Regions from separate parts of the Homo sapiens genome. Here region 2 is linked to region 1. The links come from fine-mapping of genetic effects on gene expression. A gene starts in region 1. The other region holds a variant in brackets. All regions are shown on one strand. Distances are between the middles of the regions.

Region 1 (12,425 bases):
GATTTGTGTCTTCTAATCTTATTTTCTTGGTGTTTTGAAATAACTGAGTCGCTGGTTCCAACCTGCTTTTTTCAGTCCCTCGTATTAAGTGATCATCCACTTTTGAATCCATATGTATAGCAGATACCTGAGTAGCAGATTTACTAAGTGAAAATCCCATTAGGATAGCTGAACAAATGTGAAAGTAATTTGCAGGTACCTTTTTAAGTAGTGGAAGTGTTTCTTCAACTTGATTACTGAAAAAAAAAAAAAAAGTAACAAGTGAATGCAGCAGGAATTTCCCTAACTTCATGGCAATGTTTGTTTGAATGAAAAGCTGTGGTGATACTAGAAATATAAAGTAAAATTGCCTCCTACCTTTCAGTGTTTACATTTTCTTTGTGGGAGGGTTTGCAGGTTCTAAAGATTTATTTGAAAGTCTTTTTAAAAGGAAATTTATCTGATTGTATGTTTTATCACCTTTCAGAAAATAGTAGAGCTTCTCTTAGTCCTTTCTTTCATTCTTGCTAGCGAAACCTCTTTATTCATTACTAATGGGCTAAAGAAATAACGACTGAAGGCCAAGTACTCTGCTAGTACTTTATTTTCTGTAAAAAATAAAGATGTCCTATAAAGATACTTGTGATTGGCTGGGTGCGGTGGCCCACGCCTGTAATCCCAGCACTTTGGGGGCCGAGGCGGGTGGATCACCAAAGGTTAGGATTGAGAGACCAGCCTGGCCAACATGGTGAAACCCCATCTCTGCTAAAAATACAAAAATTAGCTGGGTGTGGTGGCATGCACCTGAAATCCCAGCTATTCAGGAGGCTGAGGCAAGAGAATAGCTTGAACCTGGAAGACGGAGGTTGCAGTGAGCCAATATTGCACCACTGCACTCCAGCCTGGGCGACAAGAGCGAGACTCTGTCTTAAAAAAAAAAAAAAAAAAAAAAAAGATACTTGTGATTAAGGATGTCTAGTCTGTAAAAAGAGATGATCGGCCGAGCGCAGTGGCTCACACCTGTAATCCCAGCACTTTGGGAGGCTGAGGTGGGTGGATCACGAGGTCAGGAGATCGAGACCATCCTGGCTAATATGGTGAAACCCCATCTGTATTAAAAATACCAAGAATTAGCCGGGCGTGGTGGCGGGCACCTGTAGTCCCAGCTACTCGGGAGGCTGAGGCAGAAGAATGGTGTGAACCCGGGAGGCTGAGGTTGCAGTGAGCCGAGATCGCGCCACTGCACTCCAGCCTGGGCGACAGAGCGAGACTCCGTCTTAAAAAAAAAAAAAAAAAAGATGATCATGTAGCATGGAGGGAGGCCTTGGGAAGTTTCCCAAAGGAGGGGAGCCTAGGTTAGGGTTTCGCTTTCAAAGATGGGCAGGAATTTGGTAGGCAGAGTTGACCAGGATGGCAGAAGGGACAGGCTTCCTGTACAGAAAAGGTTTGAGAAAGCCCAGGGCTTACTGGAGAAGAGTGATCTACCCAAGATGCTATAGTAGCAACCTGAGATCTGGAGCAGATTCCACAGCTTCGATCGAAATCCCTCACCCATTTTTTTTTTTTTTTTGAGATGGAGTTTCACCCTTTCACCCAGGCTGGAGTGAAGTGGTGCGATCTCGGCTCACTGGACCTCCACCCGGCAGGTTAAAGTGATTTTCCTGCCTCAGCCTCCTGAGTAGCTGGGATTACAGGTGCCCGCCACCAGGCCCAGCTAATGTTTGTATTTTTATTTTTATTTTTATTTATTTTTTTTCCAGTCTATATTTTATTTATTGTGGTAAAATATATATAACATTTACCATTTTAAACACTTTTAAGTGTACAATTCAATGACATTGAGTACATTTACATTTTTGTGCAAACATCATGGTCATCCATCTCCAGAACTTTTAATCATCCCAAACAGAAACTCTAACGTTTGTATTTTTAGTAGAGACGGGGTTTCCCCATGTTGACCAGGCTGGTCTTGAACCCCTGACCTCAGGTGATCCACCCACCTCAGCTCCCAAAGTGCTAGGATTACAAGCATGAGCCACTGCGCTCAGCCTCACCCACTTTTTAGAATGTATTATGTCTTTAATATTTACCTACTGTGGTATCTTTGATAGTTTACAATTTCATACTCATCAAGCTGTAATTACTGACTGAACATTTCTAAAGAATCATCTTGAAACCCTGTTTATCCATATTTGTGACTGAATATCAGTGTTTATAACAAAACAGAGTCCTGGGTCTACTGTAGTAGCCTAAATATAGTACTTACTCAAATATTAATATAACAATTAGGTAAATAGTATATATTTGGCTTTCTGGGACTCAAATACAACTTAGCTAAATTTTTTAATATCTCTGATGAAATTCTGAAATATGGGTATATTTGATTTTTAGATTTGGAACTTGAAGATGAATTTTTCTTCCTCATCAAAGGAATATCTAATACTGCCTTCAAATGAATAAAATTGAGTTTATTCTATTTGGTTTCTCTTTTTCTTAGAAAGGAAATACTCCTGTCAAATGCATAACTTGAATCTAAACATGAGGAAACAATCAGATAAACCCAAACAGAAGTATCTTCTATGAAACAAATAGCTTCTACCTAAAAATGTCAATGTTATGAAAGACACAGAGAGGCTGAGGAACTGTTTCAGATTAAAGGAGGCTAAAGATACATTATTTCAGATGCAACCAATGCTCTTGAATTGGGAAGGGGATGGAATGTACTACAAAGATCATTACTTAGATAACTGAAACATTTGGATATGGGACAATATTAGATAATAATATTGGATCAATGTGATAAATGCCATGAATATGATAATTGTATTGTGGTTATATAAGTCAATGTCCTTGTTCTTAGGAAATACATACTGAAATAGTTAGGGGTGAAGAATTGTATCTGCAACTTGCCCTCAAATTGTTTAGCAATAGATAGATAGATACATAGATACAGAAAGACAGTAAAATATGCAAAATGCTAACAACTGTTAAATCTAGGAGGTAAAGCTTAAAAAGTTGTTCTACATATTATTATTATTACATTTCTGTAGGTTTAAAACTTTTTCAAAATACAAAATTGAAAAAACGTTTTAAAAAACACAAAACTCTAAAACATGGCATTTGAAATCAACAAACGTAAAAGAATGGTAACATATAATTATCAATTTGCACATTAAACTTCAATCTAATAAAAGGACTGAGGAGGAACCAAGTATAATAGGGTAGACTTGGCCCTGTGAGTCTTACCTTAACTTCCCCAGAGTTGAGGACATGAAGGGTGAACAAGTCTATTGGGGGCCTCTTTGGACTGGCATTTAGGTTGCCATTCAAGAAGAAATCTGGAATATATATGTAAGAATAAAGGTACATAAAGAGATAAATCAATCTGGAGAAAAAGAACAAAGTGGCTTTCTTTACTAGATATTAAGATAGGCTACGCGGCTGGGCACAATGGCTCACGCCTGTAATTCCAGCACTTTGGGAGGCCAAGGTGGAAAGATCTCTTGAGTCCAGCAGTTTGAGACCAGCCTGGGCAACATAGGGAGACCTCATCCCTATCAGAAAAAAATTAAAAAAAACAAAAAGATATGCCACAAAGTGAAAGTAATAAAAATAACCTTGTACAGGTACAGGAACAAATAATCAGTAGAATATGACAGAGCTGTAACTTGGACTTAGGTATTTCAGGAACTTCACATATATCACAGGTGGCACTATAAGACAAAGGAGATAGAACAGACTAAGTTTAGTATGATGGTATCGTGAACATTGGCTAACTATGTGGACATAAGCAGGATCTTAAACACAGAAGTAGGCTGGGCGCGGTGGCTCACGCCTGTAATCCTAGCCCTTTGGGAGGCTGAGGTGGGCGGATCACGAGGTCAGGAGTTCGAGACCAGCCTGATCAACATGGTGAAACTCTGTCTCTACTAAAAATACAAAAATTAGCCAGGTGTGGTGGCGGGTGCCTGTAATTCCAGCTACTCAGGAGGCTGAGGCAGGAGAATCGCTTGAACCCAGGGGGTGGAGGTTGCAGTGAGCTGAGATCATACCATTGCACTCCAGCCTGGGCGACAGAGCAAGACTCCGTCTCAAAAAGAAAAAAAAGTGGAGTGCAAATGCATTAAAGACCTAAATGTGAATGGCAGAACTGTAAATGCAATAGAAGAAAATATCTGTTACCTTGGAGTGAAGAAAGATTTCTTGAACAAGACTAAAAAGCTTAAACAATAAGGGAGGAAAACAGTGAGTTTGATTACTCATAATTGAGAATTTCTATTCAATGAAAAAAATATAAACAAAAAGATAGATAAGAGACTGGAAGGAGATATTTTCTGTGTCCAAAGCTGATGGTATTTAATGGCTGGAATAAAAAGAGAACACCTAGAAATTAGCAAGGAAAAAGAAAACCCAATAGAAAAATGGGCAAAGGATATAAAAACATAATTCACAGATTGAGGAATCCCAAACAGATAATTAACTAGGAATCAGAGAAATTCAAGTTGCAAAGAAATTGCAACCTCCGCCTTTCTGGGTTCACATGATTCTCCTGCTGAGGCCTCCCGAGTAGCTGGGATTACAGGCACCTGCCACCATGCCCGGCTAATTTTTGTATTTTTAGTAGAGACGATGTTTCGCCATGTTGGCCAGGCTGGTCTCGAATTCCTGACCTCAAGTGATCTGCCCTCCTTGGCCTCCTAAAGTGCTTGGATTACAGCATGAGCCACCGTACCTGGCCACATCTGGCTAATTTTTAAAATTCATTTTTTTTGTAGAGACAGGGTGTCACTGTGTTGCCCAGGCTGGTCTCGAATGCCTGTACTCAAGCAATCCTCCCACTTCCCAAAGTGCTGGGATTACTGGCGTAAGCCACCATGCCTGGACTGGTTTGAACCTTTTATAACAAAACCCAGATCACAGCAGTCCTCTGCTCAACACACTCTAGTTGCTTCCCATATCAGAGAAAAAAATTATCTACATATCTGGTCCCCAGCTGTGGTAGGCAGAATAATAGTCTTCAAAGATGTCTTTGTCCTAATCCCCAGAAGCTGGGACTATGTTATGTTATGTGGCAAGGGGGAATTAAGGTTGCTAATCAGCTGACTCTGAGGGTGGGAAAATTCTCCTGGATTAATTGGGTGGTACTAATGTAATCACAAGGGTCTTTTTTTTTTTTCTTTTTGGGACAGAGTCTCACTCTGTTGCCCAGGTTGGAGTGCAGTGGTGTGATCTAGGGTGACTGCAGCCTCCGCCTCCTGGGTTCAAGTGATTCTCGTGCCTCAGCTCCCAAGTAGCTGGGATTACAGGTGCCTGCCACCACGATCAGTTAATTTTTGTATTTTTGGGGAGAGACAGGGTTTTGCCATGTTGAACAGGCTGGTCTTGAACTCCTGACCTCAAGTGATCCACCTGCCTTGGCCTCCCAAAATGCTGGGATTATAGGTGTGAGTCACCGCACCTGCCACACAAGAGTCTTTAGAAGTGAAAGAGGGAGGTAGAATGTGTTAGCCATGATGCAATGTGAGGAGGACTTGACTGGCCATTTTTGGCGTTGAATATAGACTGGGATCACAAGCCAAGGAACATGGGCTGCCAGTAGAAGCTGGAAAGGCAAGAAAGGGGATTTTCCCCTAGAGCCTCCAGAAGGAATGTAGACCTGCCTGACATCTTGATTTTAGCCCAGTGAGACCCAATTTGAACTTGTAAATCTCCAGAACCGTGTGATAATAAATTTGTGTTGCTTAAAGACACCAAGTGTGTGGTAAATTGTTGCACAGCCGTAGCAAACAACTCTACTAGCAAGCACTCTCTCCTGTCTCTTTGCCTTATTCGACCCCAGACCTATCACCCCATTGCTGTTCCTCAAGCATATTCTATGCCAAACCTTCTCCTGCTTCAGGACCTTTGCACTTACAGTTCCCCCAGCCTGAAGCAATTTTTGCATTGCAAACCACATCCCTTGAGGATAGTTAGTGACATGGGGCCTGGAACTGTGAAGAATGGCAGACTTCTGCTGCTAGTCATGATGGAGTAACAGAGACCAGACTTATCCTCATGCTTTCAGCATCTTTTTTTTTTTTTTTTTTTTTTGAGACAGAGTTTTGTTCTTGTCCCCCAGGCTGGAGGGCGATGGCACGATCTCGGCTTACCGCAACCTCTGCCTCCCGGGTTCAAGCAAGTCTCCTGCCTCAGCCTCCCGAGTAGCTGGATTACAGGCATGAGCCACCGTGCCCCGCCTGCTTTCAGCATCAAAACACAAAACACATGAAGCAATGGCTTTTAGATATTGGACAACAGGCAGTTCGGGAGAGTGATCCTTGAGAAACAGGAAATAAAGTGAGCCCTATGAATGGACATTGCCTGGAACTTTCAGGCCTCGGCATAAGGAGGAAACTCTCTGATTTAAAAAACGGAACACAGGCCGGGCGCGGTGGCTCATGCCTGTAATCCCAGCACTTTGGGAGGCCGAGGCGGGCAGGTCATGAGGTCAGGAGATCGAGATCATCCTGGCTAACACAGTGAAACCCCGTCTCTACTAAAAATACAAAAAAATTAGCCGGGCGTGGTGGTGGGCGCCTGTAGTCCCAGCTGCTCGGGAGGCTGAGGCAGGAGAATGGCGTGAAGCCGCGAGGCAGAGCTTCCAGTGAGCGGAGATCGCGCCACTGCACTCCAGCCTGGGAGACAAAGCGAGACTCCATCTCAAAAAAACAAACAAAAAAAAGGAACACAGCATCAGTGAGCTGTGGAACAAGATCAAGTGGCTTAACACATATGGAATTGGAGTCCCAGATTTTTTTTTGAGGGGATCAGGAAGAGGACAGTGAAAACAAAACAAAAAATAGTAATAACAGAGGTTTTTGTAGTGAAGCTTTTGAAATGATGGAAAAATTAAGGGACTAGAAAACCAAGACCTTAGAAGGTGTCTGTCACGAGAGAGCAAGCACAGGGTACTATATAAGGCTTAGCCTGGGCCAGGCACAGTGGCTCATGCATATAATCCCAGCACTTGGGATGCTGAGGTGGGTGGATCACTTGAGTCCAGGAGTTCAAGACCAGCCTGGGCAACATGGTGAAACCGCATCTCTACAAAAACATACAAAAATTAGCTGGGCATGGTGGCACATACCTGTGGTCCCAGCTACTCAAGGGGCTAAGGCAGGAGAACTGCTTCAACCTGAAAGGTGGAGGGTGCAGTGAGCTGAGATCATGCCAACGCACTCCAGCCTGGGTACAGGGCAACAGAGTGAGACTCTGTCTTAAAAAAAAGGAAAAAAAAAAAAAGTCTGGGCGCAGTGGCTCACACCTGTAATCCCAGCACTTTGGGAGGCTGAGGCGGGTGGATCATGAGGTCAGGAGATCAAGACCATCCTGGCTAACACAGTGAAACCCTGTCTCTACTAAAAATACAAAAAACAAAAAACAAACAAAAAAAAAGCTGGGCGTAGTAGTGGGCGCCTGTAGTCCTAGCTACTTGGGAGGCTGAGGCAGGAGAATGGCATGAACCCGGGAGGCGGAGGTTGCAGTGAGCCGAGATCGTGCCACTGCACTCCAGCCTGGGCGACAGAGTGAGACTCTGTCTCAAAAAAAAAAAAAAAAAAAAAAAAAAGGTTTAGTTGGGGCAGGGTGGGACACTCACTACCCCTTGGGTTTCCACAGAGGGAAGGAAATTTTTACTTTCTCAGGTTAGGGGAGAAAGTCAACAGTTCTTGATAGGAAAAAAAAGGAAAATCTTTTCACCCTCTTTTGGCCTTAAAATGATCATTTCCTTATATTCTTTCCAAATAATCTTCAGTACCGTCTAGGTGGCATACATAAGTGCTTAAACTTTTCTTATTCTTTCTATAAGGGAAGTACTTTCCTACTTCCTATATTAATAATCTCCCCACCCCCGAAGTCTTCAACTCCAGCTGATAGTTTTAAACTTAGAACATTCTTTCCTATTTGTTTTTAATAATGCTAGATAATGTATTCAAAATAATCTTAGTATCTGAAGAGGAAATGAGATTATACATTATTCCCTCTAACATAACTTCTCAGTTTGTTATTTTGTGCATTTAAAAAATTACATTTCCGAGGATATGTGCTCCTTGTGTCCTCTAACCTCTTAATCTAAAATAACAGGGACACTTAATTTTTTTTGGTATCTAATTATACTTACAAAGTATATGATATCTGAAAATAAATGCGACAAAATATGAGACCATGTAATAACACGATGAAAAGACATTGGAAAAACATGGCATTTATATTAAATGTATTTTTATGACTAAATTTGTTCTACACAAAAGTTGTTTATCCCTGCCAATGATATCTTGTGGGGGGAAAAATGAGTACTCACCTGGCGAAAACAGGAATTGTTAGTCTCCTCAAACGAGAGCTTACTCTTGAAATACACAGCGTTCTACCATATCAAGGTCATCAGAGAATTGCTGTAAAAACCTAGTGTCTATGTCATCTGCAGGAAAAGGAGATAAAGTCACCATTATCATCCAGAAGCTCTTGAGTTATTTAAGAAGGGACATGGTAGGTATTAAGAAAAATTAAGAAGACTTTTTTCCCCCCCATTCTGGGCTCCAAAAAATTGGTAGAAGAATGCAGCGCTCATTCTTTTTCACTAAAAAGCTCATTTGTCACTTTAAGGTGAGGGGATTTGGAAAAGGACTGGCATGTGGAGAAGGAATATCGGTCAGGAATCTGGACTTTGTTGCTAGATCTGCCACTTCCTGATTCAGCCCTGATCGTGCAGAGCTGACCAAGGCCGTGGTCCCCAGGCTCCCCTGACTCCAGGCTGCCCACGCTCACCGGGACAGGCCGGCTCGCTCCCTGCAGGCTGCAGCGGGAGGGCTGGACCTGGAAGCCTCTCTTAAAACGGGCCCTGGCTGCAGCAGGAGCTGCGCCCGAAAGCAGCTCTGAGAGTAACCGGTTCACCGAACATGGGTCCAGAATGATGCCCAAGCCCTGGGAAAAGTGGCACAAAGCCACCGCCGCGAAGCAGCAGGTGTTTCAAGCTGAGGGAAGGCGGGGCTGCGAGAGACAGCCTTGCGCATGCGCGTTCCATCCAGGTGCGGCAGCCTCAGGCAGAGATTAAGAAATGAGTCGTGGAAAAGGGGGCTAGCGGCTGGTTACTAGGAGACGGGACGCTCGGCTCGGGCGTCTAGGCGCTGCGTGGGCGTGCGCCTGCGCGGCGCGGATGGGCCAGGAAGGGGTCCCTCCTAGGTGCCCTGTAAGGCAGGCAGGTAGACGTACGCGTCGCTCCGTGCGTAGGAGCGCGCGCACGGCTTGTAGACCCCGCGAGAAGGAAGGTCGAGCCAGGTACGCGTGCGCACCGGGCCTGGGGGCGAGCGGGACGGAAGCAAAGCTGGGGCGCCGGGGAGGTGGAAGACGAGCCCCACTCCGGTACAGAGCGTGAGGGCGGGGCCACGGCGGCACTGGCTGGCGCTAACCGCCCCCTCCTCCTTCCCGCGGGCTCCGTCCTTCCTCCGATCCGCCGGGGCGGGGCCAGGACGATTTGGGGGTGGGAAGGGAGGAGAAAGGGGCGGAGGATGGAGAGTGGGCGGTTCTTGTATCCCCCGCTGAGGCCGAGAGCTGACAGTCGCGGGGATGAGCTCTGGGCAGGACGGCGGGCCGAGGAGCCCGGGGAGGGACCCGGAGCTCCAGGTAGAAGCTGCGGAGGTGCGCGGGGTGGGGAGAGTGCTGCTACTGGACTGGAAGGTCTCTGAGAAGGCGGCTGCAAGCGGGCAGGAGTGGCGGGTGCGGGGCCGTGGCGGGCGGAGTTGGGCGCTAGCAGCGGGAGCGGCTGTGAGGGGCAGCGGCGGGCACAGCTGCCGGCCGGAAGCTCGGCAGCACGAGTTGCCCCTGTTTCTTGGGAGGTTAGGTTTGAGCCCAGTTCCTATGGTCACTGCTTCGCGTCCTCCCGCAGCTCTCCGCTTGGTTGTTGGGGAGACTGTTCAGTTTAGAAACGCTCTGGAAGCTCTGGTGGAGCCGAGGAATTTGGAAGTCACAGATTTGGGAGTTCAGCCTGACTCCCGATCGCTCATTTCTGAGCCTCTTTCTAGACTTGGGGTGGTGAAAGGCTGAGATTACATAGGCATTTGCATGAAAATCTCAGATAATTTTAGTAAAAATTATACACAGTAAAGGCAGGGAAAGCTGGCTTTTGTTGAAAAACTATTTGAGACTTAAATTGGATAACTAGGTGATCATGGACTTGATACCTAAAAACTCACAGAAATATGGTTTTTTTTCACTTTTTTTTTTTCGCAGCTTCGGGAAAGTTTGCATAGATTATAGTGTCCCAACGTTTTCCTTCTTCCATTCCAGGACCTTATATCCTAGGAGATTTCCTTGTTTAAAATTTTCTGTACTGGTGTTCAGCATTTCAAGTATACTTTGTTTACGTGTAAGGACATAAGTAGAATAACAATAGGTTTGTAAGTAGAAAAAAACAGGTTAGTTATAGAAGTAGGATGTCGCATTCGAATCTGCTTCCAGGATAAGACAGATTCTTGTTTGTATTTTAATTGATTAATGAGCCAAACTCTTCAGTCTTAATTAGTGGGAAATAACTAGGACGGTACATTAATTAAATATTAATTTTAAATCCTAAACTTTGGCATTATTTAATGGCAGCTTCCACAATATCTCGCGTACTGTTTACCTTCTGAAGAAAAATCACTGCCTGTAGCCCAGAATATAATCAGGTGTAGAGATTCTCTGGGAGATCTTTTCTGTCTTCTTTTTGAGTTGCTTAGACTAGTTTGTTTAGGACGATTTGGTTTTGAAGTCCTCCATACACAGAGGCAGTTAGAGGTATTACTATTTATCACCTTTTCAGATTACATATTTCTTTCCCTCCCCAGAGATAGCCACTCTCCTGACTTCTAAGATAGCCACTTCCTTGATTTTCCTTAATGTTTCACATCATTGTATGTGAACATGCACATTACAGTTTGGCTTGTTTTTGAACTTCGAATGGAATTGTACTAAGTATTCATTTACATCTTGCTTCTTTACTCAACATTTTTTTTAAGATTAATCTTTATTGTTGCTCGCAGTATTTAGTTTGCTGATTGTTTCCCAAAATATTTATCCACTTATTTTTATTATATAAAATACTCTCTCAGAATTATTCATAAATCTTGTATGGTTTTCCACATCCTTCTGTTAGTGAGGCAGTTCCTTTCTACTTCAATGTCTATAAGTCTACACTTTTGGAGACAATATTTTTAAAAAGAAAAACCCACCTCAACTGTAGTAAGCTTTTGTGGAACCAGATTTCAGAATTCCATTGAAGTACTCCAGTATTTTCCATTCTATCAAAAAATCAATAATTTGTTGAATACATATTATGTGCTTCATATTTTGCTCAACACCGATGATACTTTTTATTATATAATCTTAGCTCCTGTTTCACTGAAAAATTAAAATTCAACCAGACAGAAACTTCCTCAGATTTCCATGACACTTACCTTTTTTTTTTGAGACATGATCTCACTGTCGCTCAGGCTGGAGTGCAGTGGTGCGATCATGACTCATTGCAGCCTTGACCTCCCGGGCTCAAGTGATTCTCCTATCTCAGCCTCCCAAGTAGCTGGGACCACAGGTGGATGCCACTATGCCTGGCTAATTTATTTTTTAATTTTTGTAGATACAGGAACTCACTATGTTGTCCAGGCTGGTCTCAAATTCCTGGGCTCAAGTGATCCTCTGGCCTTGGCCTCCCAAAGTGTTGGGATTATTGGGATTACAAGTGTCTAAATCTTCACCTGTCCTTGCTTTTGTCTTTCTTGTGTCGGGGCAATACATCTTTATCTGGGTTTCCTCTTATTACCTCAGCTGTCTTTCTCCATCAATTAACATTAACTCATGCCTTAGGAATCTTCATTGTTTCTGTACTGTAGGGCTTCTTCACCTGGAGTCCAAGGACCTTATAGAGTCTTAAATCCCCTGAAATTGTTTGTAAAGGTGTATTTGCATTTTTCTGAGGAGAGGATGCAGGACTTTTAATTCTGAAAGAGGATCCTTATGTAAAGAGAATTAAGGAACAAGTTTTTCTCTTCCCATAATGACGTTTCCACAACCTTGGTTGTCTTCCACCTTTGTTGTACCTCTCTTCCTCTCACAATCATGCTTCCTAAAAGAAGTTTACATTTTCCATTTCTTTTTCTTTACTATTCATTCATTAGTCCCCTTCAGACTTGTTTTCACCCACCATTGAAACTGCTTTGTTCGAATCATTAAATTTTCTTATTTTGAAAATGTTTTATTGCGTTTCACCTTTGTGCTGGGCACTTTTAAGGCATTAGGGATAAAACAGAGACAAGACAAAAGCCTAGAGCTCTTGAATTTTATATTCTAGTATGGGGAGATAGTAAACAAGTCAGCAAATGATATAATTTCAAGTAGTGATAAGTGCAAATAGCTTATCACTTATTTGAGAGAGTGAC
Region 2 (12,425 bases), 910 kb after region 1:
GAGGCAGGTGGATCACAAGGTCAAGAGTTCAAGACCAGCTTGGCCAATATGGTGAAACCCCATCTCTACTAAAAATACAAAAAAATTAGTCAGGCATGGTGGTGCGTGCCTGTAATCACAGCTACTCGGGAGGCTGAGGCAGGAGAATTGCTTGAACCCGGGAGACAGAGGTTGCAGTGAACAGAGATCACACCATTGCACTCCAGCCTGGGCAACAGAGCAAGACTCCATCTCAAGAAAAAAAAAATTACATCTCACAGTTTTTCAATCTAAACTTGTAGAAAATAAAACTCTATTCTCAATTTAAGTTTAAATTAATATATTTCAATTAAAAGGCTGAGCATTTAAACTGGTATAGTAGATAAGTATATGCCAGCATGGAACAATGTTCATGGATAGGTGGTTGAAAAATGCAGGTACAAAACAGGATGTTCAGTTTCATTTAATTATGATAAAAACAAAAACAAAGAACAAAGGGTCTGGATATCTATATACAGAAAGTAAGAAGATCTGGCCAGATAACCATGAGATGATGAGGTGGATGATAACTATTGCTTCTTTCTTTTTCACTTATCTACATTTTCTAATCTTTCTATACATTGAATATATACATATGTAGGTTTTGTGATAACTGTTTTAAATTTTTAATTAAAAAGCTTTTCTATCAGTGTACAGTTTTGTGTTCATTGCTATTATATTTAAAAGCAACAAAATGTCATGACTTGACAGCACCCCTAGCCTCTCTGCACCAAATATTCCTTGTCAGCTAAATGGTGAGCTGAATAGCCACCTCACAGGTCACTCTAAGTTTTAGATGAGATATTTGATGATAGCAAATGCTTTACTCAGAACCTAGTATATGATGAGGGTGCACTGCATACTAGATTAGGGAGCTTGCCATGGTCCTTCAGGAGTAAATGACAGAGCTGGAGCACCAATCCAGGCTATCTGGCCACAAAGCTATGTGCAGAACCCGGAGAAGGACGGACAACACAGGAAGCCTTGATGGGATGCTGTAAAAGACATTATGATAACGACAATGATGATGGGTGATGATGTAGACTCTCCAGTGGTGCAGACCAATTTTCCCAAATTATTTCAATGCTTTTCAAATCAACCAGCAAATAAAGAGCTTTAAATTCTAGGTTCATTACATAGCTAAATCAGTTTTATTGTGTATATGACTTGGGGAAGAGTTAATCTTTTTGAAAGAGCTAAGATAAAATTATCGAGTCCATTTTGCATCTTGTAATGAAGAGTTGCTAGGGCAACCTCTTTGCTCAATACCTCATTTCCAAGGTGACCGATTTGAGGCTGGTCCGGGAAACACTGAAAACCAAAACAGCATTGTGTTCCAGAAGAAGAAAGAGCCCATACATAAGTGATGAATGAAACAAAGAGCTGGGGACAAAGCCAGACACTGCTTTACAACTCTATGCAGACAGATGTGGCCGTGCACAGAACACAGGAGGAGGACGCAATTAAGATTCTCAGTGAAGTAAGACTCTAGTGTGTTTCCTTTTCAACTCCATTCTACTTTTTGTCTGCTTTTTCATAAAAGTCCAAACATCAAAAAGGTATACATCCCATGAGGTGGGAGATATTTGAGATTATTATTTTGTTATTCTTTCCATTTATAGCTGAGGGTGTCTTCCAGTCAGAGAAAATATTAGGGAATCAAAGATACAAAAGTGCTTTGGATGTGAGACTGGAGATCACTGCAGTATATGCCTGTCATCAGAGTGATTCTTACTATGAATAAGGGAGGGCAAGTGTGCTGTGCAGTGCCTACCTACGTGCAGGCTGTCTTGAGAACTCACAATGCCACAGAAGGCACCAAGCACAAGTGCCCATGGGATGTGCTTGAGAACTGTTCATCCCCTCCCCTGGGCTTTGTGTTCTAGAGGCAGACGACTAGGATGCCCCCCTGAAGAACAAGACCCTCACTACTCATTCTTTATTTTTCCCCTGCTTGATATTCCAGGCTGGAGTCTGGAGAATCACTCTTGGCATTTTTCTCTCTCTCAGCCCCACATCGTTGACTTGACTTTATAAAGAGCTTTGGGTACATCCGCAGTGTTTCAGCCACACAGCCTACTGGTTCCAGCCACCCAGCCCTGCCTCCTGACTGCCCCCATCTCCCCAACTGCCTCCTGACTGCCCGCCTCTCCAACTATTCTCTGTGTGCCAGCTCAAACCCCAAATTAATTTCTCCTCTGCTAACAACCCCTCCATTCCCCTCAGGATGAAGTTCAAAATCCTTAATTCAATCAAGGCCCTTCCTTCACCAGCTTTATCACCTTCTCCACTCACACTAAACTTCTCTGGAATGACAAACATTCTCTGTTCCTTAGGATTCCCCAAGCTCCCCCACTGCCTGGGGCTCTCTTCCCATCTCTCCACCTTCATAACTCCTTCTCTTCCCCTGGGTCTGAACTCCGATGCCACTAGCTAAGGCAAGCCTTCTGTGGCCACTGAAGCCAGGTGAGGGACATCTCCTGCATCTTCACTCAGCACTTCCCACTCGTCACATTTAACTAGAACTTCTCTCATTTTCATTGCTACTTCCTCCTGAGACTGTCGGTTGTGCTTGGGTAGGAATGTTGGCTTTCCTGTTTGGCACTGTATTCTAGAGCCCAACACAGGCATATACAATAGGCATAAATTTGTTGAATATTTTTATAATAAAAGTCAACATTTTAAGTGCCTGCTAAGTACTTTACACTGTATGCATTACTTCTTTTAATTCCATAACAACCTCAGAGTAGGCATATTATTATTCACAGAGTATGGATATATCACATACATCTCAGAGAAAAAAATTTCTAACTGTTGGACTGAATATTAAGTTTGCTTCTTCAGCATATGAACCAATGAGGAAAGAATAGGCTGAATAAAGATCTTATGTCTGCATCCTACTTTCAGGGTTTTCAAAGCATTTCTACACACCAAGGACCAATGATTATCAAGTATTACACAGAGTTCTTCTTAGGAAGAGAGTACTACTTTACTCTGTCTGTGGGGATACATGCTAGTGAAAATGTACAGTGAATTTGGGGGATGATTTGAATTATCAAAATTTAAAATGCACATACCCTTTGGGTCCAGCCATCTGACTTGAGGGAATTTCTTCCAAAGCCAGACTTATACATGTGCCCAAAAATCTACGTGCAAAGATACCTGTTACAGGAATGTTTGTAAGAGGGGAAGGAAGAACACAATGTAAATATCCATTAATAATGGGGAAGAACCTTGCAACTATAGGCATGAGACCATCTACCTGTATGGAAAGGGCTCTAAGACAAAATGTTTAAAATAGTTTTTAAAATAGTAAATGTATATGGTATTGTCTTATTCATGTTTATTAAAGTTCTTATGTGTCTCTGTATAAATACGTTATGTGTGCACATACTTACATATGCATATGTAGAAAAAGGATTGGAAGGAAATTCACCAAACTATTCAACGTGTTTCCTTCATGGATAGGCGTAGTGGTGAGAGAAGCCTCCTCTGAAGACTTAAGTATGGCTTAAATCTCATATACTGAGAATTATTCATATATTACTTATCAGATAAAAATAAAGCAGTTAATTAAAAATTAAGTTCCCATTACATTTACATCATTTTGTCATTTGCTTTCAGGTCTGTTTCACTTTCTTTCTTTTTTTTTTTTTAGATGAAGTCTCGCTCTGTTGCCAGGCTGGGGTGCAGTAGCGTGATCTCAGCTCACTGCAACCTCTGCCTCCCGAATTCAAGCAATTCTCCTGCCTCAGCCTCCCGAGTAGCTGCGACTACAGGCACACGCCACCACACCTGGCTAATTTTTTTGTATTTTTAGTACAGACGGAGTTTCACCATGTTGGCCAGGATGGTCTCGATCTCCTGACCTAATGATCCGCTGCCTCGGCCTCCTGAAGTGCTGGAATTATAGGTGTGAGCCACCGCACCTGGCCAGGTCTGTTTTTCTTAACATTTTTCTCAGTGTATAATTAATAATGTTCAGAGTTAAAAGTACTACAATAAAAATTAAAAGCTACATAAATTTAAAAAAAAAAAACATCTCCCAACAATCTCACCACCCAGCTAAACTGTTAACATTTTGGTAAAAGAAAAAAGGGAGGGAAGGGGAAAGTACCACCATGCCTAAATCAGTCACATGAACAACCAAGTTTCTAACACACTATATATTCTGATTTTTTTCATTTAGCATGATATTTCATTTAGCACGATATTTCATTTAGCACGAGGACTTTTCATCGTGTGAAACTTATTCTTTAGAAATGTGATATCTGATGAATGTATGACATGCCATTATATGAATTTGTGTTGTTTTCCATTGTTGGCTAAAGGCTGTAGTAATTATTCTCTGCACATATACTTCAGTATCTCTAATTATTTCCTTACATAGATTCCTAGTAATATATGAATTCGCTGGGGTAAATATAAGTTCTTAAGGCTTCTGAACATTTTACACTAAGGATGCACCAATTTATACTCTCACTAGCAGGATATAAGTGTCCATCCCACCCTGTCATTGCCATTACTGTTTATCGGTGATTTTTAACCTTACCAATTTGATGGGGGAGGTGGTGTCTAATTGATTATCAATTTGCATTTTTTAAGGCATATATTTGGTTACCAGTAAAGTTAAATATTTTTGTATATGAGTTTGACTTTTTTCCTTTTTTTCCCTAAAATTTC[C/T]ACTCCAGTATTTGTCATTTTCTCATTCCCTTATGGTATGGATGTATGTGCATGTGTGTTTGCATACTGAACACTGATTCATACAAACACGGTGCTTTATACTGATACACACACGTAAGATATCACTCCTATGGCCCTTTTTGTCTGTCATGTATGTTGCAGGTATTTTTCTGAGATTTGTCTTCATTTTATTTACATGTTTTTAAGCAAAATAACATTTTTACCTACTCAGCCTATAAATCTTTCCTTTATTGTTTCTTCCTTGGATTTTATGCTTCTGCTTCCCTATCCTACCATATTTTTTTCAAGAAATTTACTTTTCACTCTACCTCAAGTTGTTGGGACATTTAGAAGGAGGCATAATAAGCCCAAGAAAATTCTATTTCTAAGTAGAGTTCACTAAATATATTTCGTCCCAAATAAAACTCAAGAATAGTAATATAACTGCAGAGAATATGAAGGAGCTGTCCCCAAACCTCCTACAAGAAATAAATTAGGGTTCAGTTTCTCCCTGTTGCTTCTAGAAGAAGTCAAGTTCAAGTGGTGAGTTGACATCTGACTAATTAGGTATAAATCAAATCTGCCAATCACAAGGAAACAGCCAGGGACAGGAGCACTCACCTTGAGGCAAAGTAGCCAGGAACCAGCCTAGAGGAGAACACACACACAGCCTCCGGAGGGAGAGTCACTGGTCATCCCAAACCAGCAGGCAGGTGAGCCTCCATGGGTGATAATTTTTAAAATGTGCTAATAGAATAAAATTCACCAATTCATCTGCTTCTCCCAATACATCAAATCTCAGCTATTTCAAGGCCAGTTAGAAAAGGTCTTTTCATTTTTAAAAAAACTTTCTCCTGCCTTTGATCTTTTCAACTTCTTTTTATGGAAAATTTCAAATACACAAAAAAGCAGAAAGAAGAGTAAAACGACCCTTCTCACTAAGTCTTATCCAAATGCTACAATGATCAACGTGTGGTCTATCTATTTCATCTACTCTCCCCCGCCCACTACTCCACCACCCCAATTACAATAAAGCAAACCCCAAGCATCCCCAAGCATTGTATCATTTCCTCTGCAAAGATTTCAGCATGAGACAGGTCTTTTAAGGATATTGTTTCCATTCAGTGACTGCAAAGACTGAAATGTTTCTATTTAAATCGTTAGTTGCTGTTGTATTTGCCTGGAAGCACTGAGGTTCCGTCTTCATGTTCTCATGTTTTTGGTGTTCTTCATCCCACTGCAGTAATGCCGTTCCACTGGAATTATTCTTGTAAAGATGAGCACCTCCTTGTTGCCAAATTCAGTGTTAAGTTTTCAGTACTTCCTTGGCCTTCCTCCACATTTAACCCTACCACGCCCTCCCATTGGAAGCTGTTTTTCTCCTCTCGGGACCGGCCTAGGACAATCTGGTGGTTCTTTTGCTAACATGTGGCTTGCTTGTTTGCTCTCTTAACTTTTTCCTTTAGCTACAAAAGATGCCACTCAATTTAGGAAGAGAAGGTAAGCAAAAGAAGGACATAATCTCTCGCAAGTCCTCCCTTTCCTTTCATAAAGGGATATTTGATGTTCACTCATGACTCTGACCTAGAGTTTTCAATCATTTCTGCAGCCCCACACTTCTATCCGTTAGCAACGAACCACGAAGTGCCAACCCAACCAAGATCAGTTTCTCTCAGCTTAAAAAGAGAATTCTTATTTTCGTTGTTTTTGAGACAAGATCTCGCTTTGTCACCCAGGCTGGAATGCGGTGACGCAATCACCGCTCACTGCAGCCTCGATGTCTCAGGCTCAAGCGATTCTCCCACCTCAGTGGCTCAAGTAGCTGGGGCTACAGGTGCATGCCACCATGCCTGGCTAATTTTTGTATTTTTTGTAGAAACAGGGTTTCACGATGTTGCCCAGGCTGGTCTCAAACTCCTGGATTCAAGGGATCCACCCACCACAGCCTTCCCAAGTGCTGGGGTTACAGGCATGCGCCACCGCGCCCAAATTCTTAAAAGCCTCTCTCTCTCCCTTTTACTGCCTTTACAAATACTTTTTCCCCCAGTGGCTAAAATACATTTCTGTTACAACCACACAAGAAATTGGACTACTTTTTATTTGAGCAGAAAATGAAAATGGCCTCAAGTAGGGACGTATAGACAATCAGTTTACCTCATCAAAGACCTTAGACACGACATGCTTGTCCAGGACGGGAACATAGGTGGAGCTGTGCGGGACTGCTGCCACTGACAAGGCATCCATGAGGGTGAGTTTCTTGGCGACCAAGCCATAGGTCTTCAGCCAGTTTTCTGAAGACACATCTGAAGAACTAAGAACACAAGGAGGTGGTGTTTTAAAATTTACAACTTGATGGTTAACCAACAGAAGCATAACAGAACTGTCTTTGTCAAATTAAAGAACTCACTCGTGGTCATAAACCTGGCTTCCTTCTCGCGTCACCTTTTCTGACGATTTGTCATCCAGCCACTCCTCAGCCAGCAAGATGCTCATTTCTGTGGAAGGGGAAGTGGCAGTTGTATATTTTCCTCACATATGGGTTTTACATAAAATGCAAAGGGATCACGCTTGTCTCAGTCCAGCTGTGACTGAGAGCTAATAAATGGACCACATTTCAGAGAACATATCCTGATTTGTCAGAGCGGGCTCTCAGGCAAGATTCCTTTGCAATTTACACTACAGACCAATGCATGGGTAAATACGGCACTACCACTGTTTTGAGACAATGAGACATATTCATTCTTTCATTCAGAAAACACACCTCTAAAAAGTGTGCAATAAAAATACCATTAACCAATGATTGTTCAATATTGACCTTTTGGACTCCCCCAAATTATATGAGAGCCTTGATCAACATTTTAATTTCTGATAGATTGTTTAGTGGTTCTTCAGCTTTCTGTAGAAAACCAAAAAACCTGTTAGGTCCTGTTTAGTTGTAAGTTCAAATTTTCAAATTAATATTTGGGGTTTTACATATATCCTTATATAAATGTGTATTTATAAATGAAAAGGGATATTTGTTGAATGAGCAGCATTCAGAAGGAGGCGTGTTTGGGTGTGAGCTAGTTAACTAGCTAAGAAATCATATCCCAATCATCATTTGATAAGCCCTTTAAGGAATGTGCATGTAGACAACTTAGGAAATATGGCAGGTTAATTGAAAGGGAGCCACTGTGCCCGGCCAAAATCCCAGCACTTTGGGAGGCCAAGGCGGGTGGCTCACTTGAGGTCAGGAGTTTGAGACTAGCCTGACCAATATGGTGGAACCCTGTCTCTACTAAAAATACAAAAATTAGCTTGGCCTGTTGGCGGCTGCCTGTAATCCCAGCTACTCGGGAGGCTGAGGCAGGAGAATTACTTGAACCGTGGAGGCAGAGGTTGCAGTGAGCCGAGATCACGCCACTGCACTCCAGCCTAGGTAACAAAGTGAGACTCTACCTCAAAAAAAAAAAAAAAGTGAGGAAAAGATATCAGACAGATCAGCAATGAAGAAAACAGAGTTCTAAATTAAACTATGACTGTGTAGCCACAGGGGCACATTTGCTACTCAGCCACTTCCTACTCCCTAGGGGATTGTGTGTATATGTGTGTGTTTAACTGGGATTTTAAATGTATCAACCATTTGAAATAAAAGAAAAATGTTACAGGCATCAAACGTTTCAAAACTTATTACTTTAAGATTAATAATTTTATCAATAGTAATAAAAATTGAGTGGGAAAATCACATTTTCCTCATATGCAGTCCCCAAAAGGCTGACAATTTGGACCAGAGAGGGGCTCATCTGATAGCATCATCCATTGAAGAAAGGGAAGAAAAAAAATCAACTATGAAATATGACAGTTTCAAAATCAAACCATGGAGGGGCAGCAGCATGACCATAGTTATGTGAGCCACGTGTGTATTAAACACCCAGGCACCATAAGCACAAGGCCAGCTCTCAGAAAATCCAGGTCATAAAGCAGGCAGACCTGACTTACAAGGGATTCCTTTGAATAGGAAGCAATCTGGGCCCATTTAAAATATGATTTCCCCAACATATCTACACGCAGCTCTTTCTGGAACAGATACACTGTGGAAAGGGAGGCTGGTTGGCCACAGAGATGCTTTCTGGCTTGCCTTTGTCACTTAGAGCAGTCCTCCGGCTGCTGGCATTGGAGAGGCCATCCTTCCTTTCACTGCAAGCTGAGCTCCTGAGGGAGGACATCTGGCTTCTGAGCAGGCTGGTTTTGGTTGATTCTGTTGGTATCACAGAGGGAAGAGTTAAAGGAATTGGGGATGGAAGGAGATACTTCATTAGATATAACTATTTTATCAGCTCCTTAAAGTAAGAATGCAACCTTTGTTTCCCAACCCTCTGAGGATGGTGCTGCCACAAACTGAATGCTGCCAGGATGCCCTGCTCCCTTTATCTGAATTTCAGCTGGACCCCTCCTGGAGAGAAGTCAGCTTCCACACTCATTCAGGCTGCTGGCAGAACCCAGCTCCTTGCAATTGTAGGACTGAGGCCCCATTTCCTTGCTGACTGTAGCCCAGCGGCCTCTCTCAGCTGCTTAAGGCATCTGTATTACTTCTCACACGACTCTTCCATCTTCAAGACAGTAATAGCACATTGAATTCCTCTTGTGGTTCAAATCTGTCTGACTTTCTCTTCTGCCACCAGCTGGAAATAGCCCCTGCTTTTCACAGTTCCCACAGTTACACTGGACTCACCTAGATAACTCTGTCTAGGTCAGCATAACCTGGTCATGAGAGTGACGTGTCATCATATTCAAAGATTGCAGGGTTCAGGGCAGGACATCTTTGGTAAGCCATTCTAGAAATTCTGCCCACCACAATTGCTGTCCAGATCTTTGCTTATGTTATTTTCTACCCTGTGATGTGTCCCTTCTACAGGCAAATGACAACTTAGCAAATATTGACCTTGAATCTGTGTGCTTTAGAGGACAATGAGCCTGTGCCAAGTCATCTTGATTACTTTTTATATTTGATAACATAAACCACACTAATTGTAATGTAGTCTGTACTTCATAATTTGGAGGCTTTAGAAGTACCTAGTTCCAAGGCTTTATGTCAGCATTCGTGAATGAAATGTGTCTGTGTTTTCACTGAGAGGACTTACCCTCTCCTACAAGAAATTAGATAGTTAGAGTGAAGATTAGCTAGTAATCTGCAAATGGGTAGCTTTCACACAGAAAATTAACACCAGTGGTCTCCATGCATAGAGAAGGAGTGTGCTATACGGTAATCATTGTTTTTCTAGGCAACAAAAGGGTAAGCCCTGCCTTGATTGTCTCTGTACCCAGGAACTAAGAAAGCTAAATTTCCTTAGAAGCTATGTCTGTGAGAAAAAGAGATAAACAATCCAAATCAGAGAGCTGAGCTCCTGCCAGTGTCCACACTGGCAGCCCACCTTGACCAACATTACCAGGCAAAACAATCAGATTTACGTGAGCCAAATGAAAATGAAATTTAGCTCCCCAAGTCTCCAAACATAAAAACTATACCATTCCCAAAGGCCACAAATACGGAATGAAACATTTATCTAGCAGTGGAATCAAACATTTAGCCCCTCCCCGGACTCTGTAGGATCAGTCATGGCATTTCACCACTCCTCTACATCACCAATGGAAACAAAATAGAAACTCAGCACATGATTGTCTCCCAATACCGAGCAACCCAAATCTAAGTGAAATGGTGGCAGTGACAATTGGCCATTAAAATGTTTAAGACAAGTAGCAACTCTGGCAAAACTCAGGTTCACTGGAACAGGCAGGCAGGACTGGAAAAAGGGATGCAGCCACACAAGTGGCCAGTGTGGGAAGGCTGTTTGTTCCCATGTACGATGCTGCTCCCTTGTACAGAGATAGCAGGAGCAAGAGGGCCAATCTCCAGTTAGCGGCCCTTTCCGGGACGCCTCTTGGTCCCTGTGGGTTCAAGGCCCTCCTCCCTGCCAGCAATGTGGGGACACCTCAGAGACAACACTGGGGGAAGCTGCTGCAACTCTCCCCTCAGAGACATCTAACATCCTGGTCTGAGGGGATCCCTGCTGCCACCTCAGGTAGCACCAGCAGGGACCAGTAGGAGCCCCAGAAACACCATAAAAACAAGCACCAAAATATTAACAATACCACAGAGCCTGTGAAAATTAAATCGCCATCAGAACCACAGCCCACAAAAGTAGGTCAAGGCCCACATGCTAAATTTAAACAGGGTGACTACTTCATAAAATAAAATACTTAAATGAGATGCAGAGTTCCTAACATAATAGACAAAATGTCCAAGATACTATCAAAAATCACCCATCATATCAGTAACTAGAAAAACAATCACACCTTCAATCAGAAAAAGCAAATGCATGATGCCAACACCAAGAAGAATCAGGAGCTGGAATTATCTGACAAGGATTTTAAAGAGGCTACCCATAAAAGTGCTTCAACAATTAATTATACATTCTCTGGAAACAAATGAACAAATAGAAAGAAAAGCAAGAAAGCCTCTAGCTAGATAGAAAAAAGGCAAAAAGAGAGAAGACAGATCAAAGCACTAATATCAAGAGTTCATTGCTAAAGATCTTGCAGCCATTAAAAAGCTAACAAAGGGATATAATAAACAACTTTGCCCTCATAAATCTGATAAATTAGAAACAATAGACCAATTACTGAAAAACCACAAAGTGCCAAAACTCGACCAAGCTGAAATGGACAATATCCTTAAAACCATTACAGAAATTGCATTCATCATGAAAAATCTGGAAAAGAAATCCCTAGGCCGAAATGGCTCCATGATAACTCTACCAAACATTCAAAGAAGAATTACATGAATTTCTCCCAGGAATAGAAGAGGAGGGACAATTTTCCAACCCACTTGGTGAGGACACTATTAGCTTGATACCAAAGCTGGATGAAGTCAGTGTTAAAAAAGAAAAATTAAAAGAACTATAGATCAATAGCTTTCATGAACTTTGATACCAAAATCCTCAACAAAATACTAGCAAACGGAATCCAGCAATGTATTAAAATAATTATACACTGAGACTAAGTGGGAAATATTCCAAGATATACAAGGCTGCTTCCACATTTGAAAATCAATTGATGTCATCCACCATTTCAATAGACTAAAGAAGAAAAAGCCTATATCAGTTGACACAGAAAAAGCATTTGATAAAATCCAGCATCCATTCATGATAAAAACTCTCAGAAAGCTAGAAATGTGTGGAACTTCCTTAACTGGATAGAGGTTTTCTTTAATTTTTTTCTAGAAGTGTTATAGTTTTCTGTTTTACATTTAAATCCACGGTACATGTGAGGTTAAGGTCAAGTTTCTTTTCCTTTTTTGACTGTAGATATTGCTTCAGCATCTTTGTTGAAAGGGCTATACTCCCTCCATTGAGTTAATTTTGCACCTTTGTCAAATCATTTGGGTATATTTGTGTGGATTAAATCTAGGTCCTATTCCACCTATCCCTCTGCTAATACCACACCGTCTTGATTAATGTGGTTATGTGGTAAGCCTTAATGTCCAGTACAGTGATTTCTCCAACTTTAGTCTCTTTTTCAAAATTATTTTAGCTATTGTAGAACCTGATGTTTCTGCATATATTTTAGAATATGCTTGTATATGTTTATAAAAACATTTTTGGGATTCTATTAGGAATTTCATTAAACCTATAGATAAATGAGCTGAGAATTGTCATCTATCACACCAATTCATTCAACCTATGAAC

Evidence for each region. PIP is the estimated chance that this variant, and not a neighbour inherited with it, causes the effect.
Region 2: its variant is fine-mapped to the expression of C2orf15 in whole blood (INTERVAL, PIP above 0.99).

What each region holds. Positions count from the first base shown.
Region 1 is chr2:99,138,294-99,150,718 of GRCh38, reverse strand. C2orf15 (chromosome 2 open reading frame 15) reads right to left here and starts at 9,012. Exons shown (of 4, transcript NM_144706.4): 1 at 8,782-9,012; 2 at 8,318-8,434; 3 at 3,226-3,317; 4 at 1-236. The coding sequence starts at 160. The region is part of intron 1 of TSGA10 (testis specific 10); the gene reads left to right. RefSeq lists an enhancer at 8,275-9,081 and silencers at 9,303-9,612, 9,683-9,752.
Region 2 is chr2:98,231,161-98,243,585 of GRCh38, reverse strand. VWA3B (von Willebrand factor A domain containing 3B) reads right to left here. Exons shown (of 28, transcript NM_144992.5): 17 at 8,819-8,938; 18 at 7,109-7,196; 19 at 6,856-7,012. Among named protein-coding and RNA genes, the nearest start is that of CNGA3, 110 kb to the left of the region's middle. The variant C/T (reference allele first, on the strand shown) is at 4,702.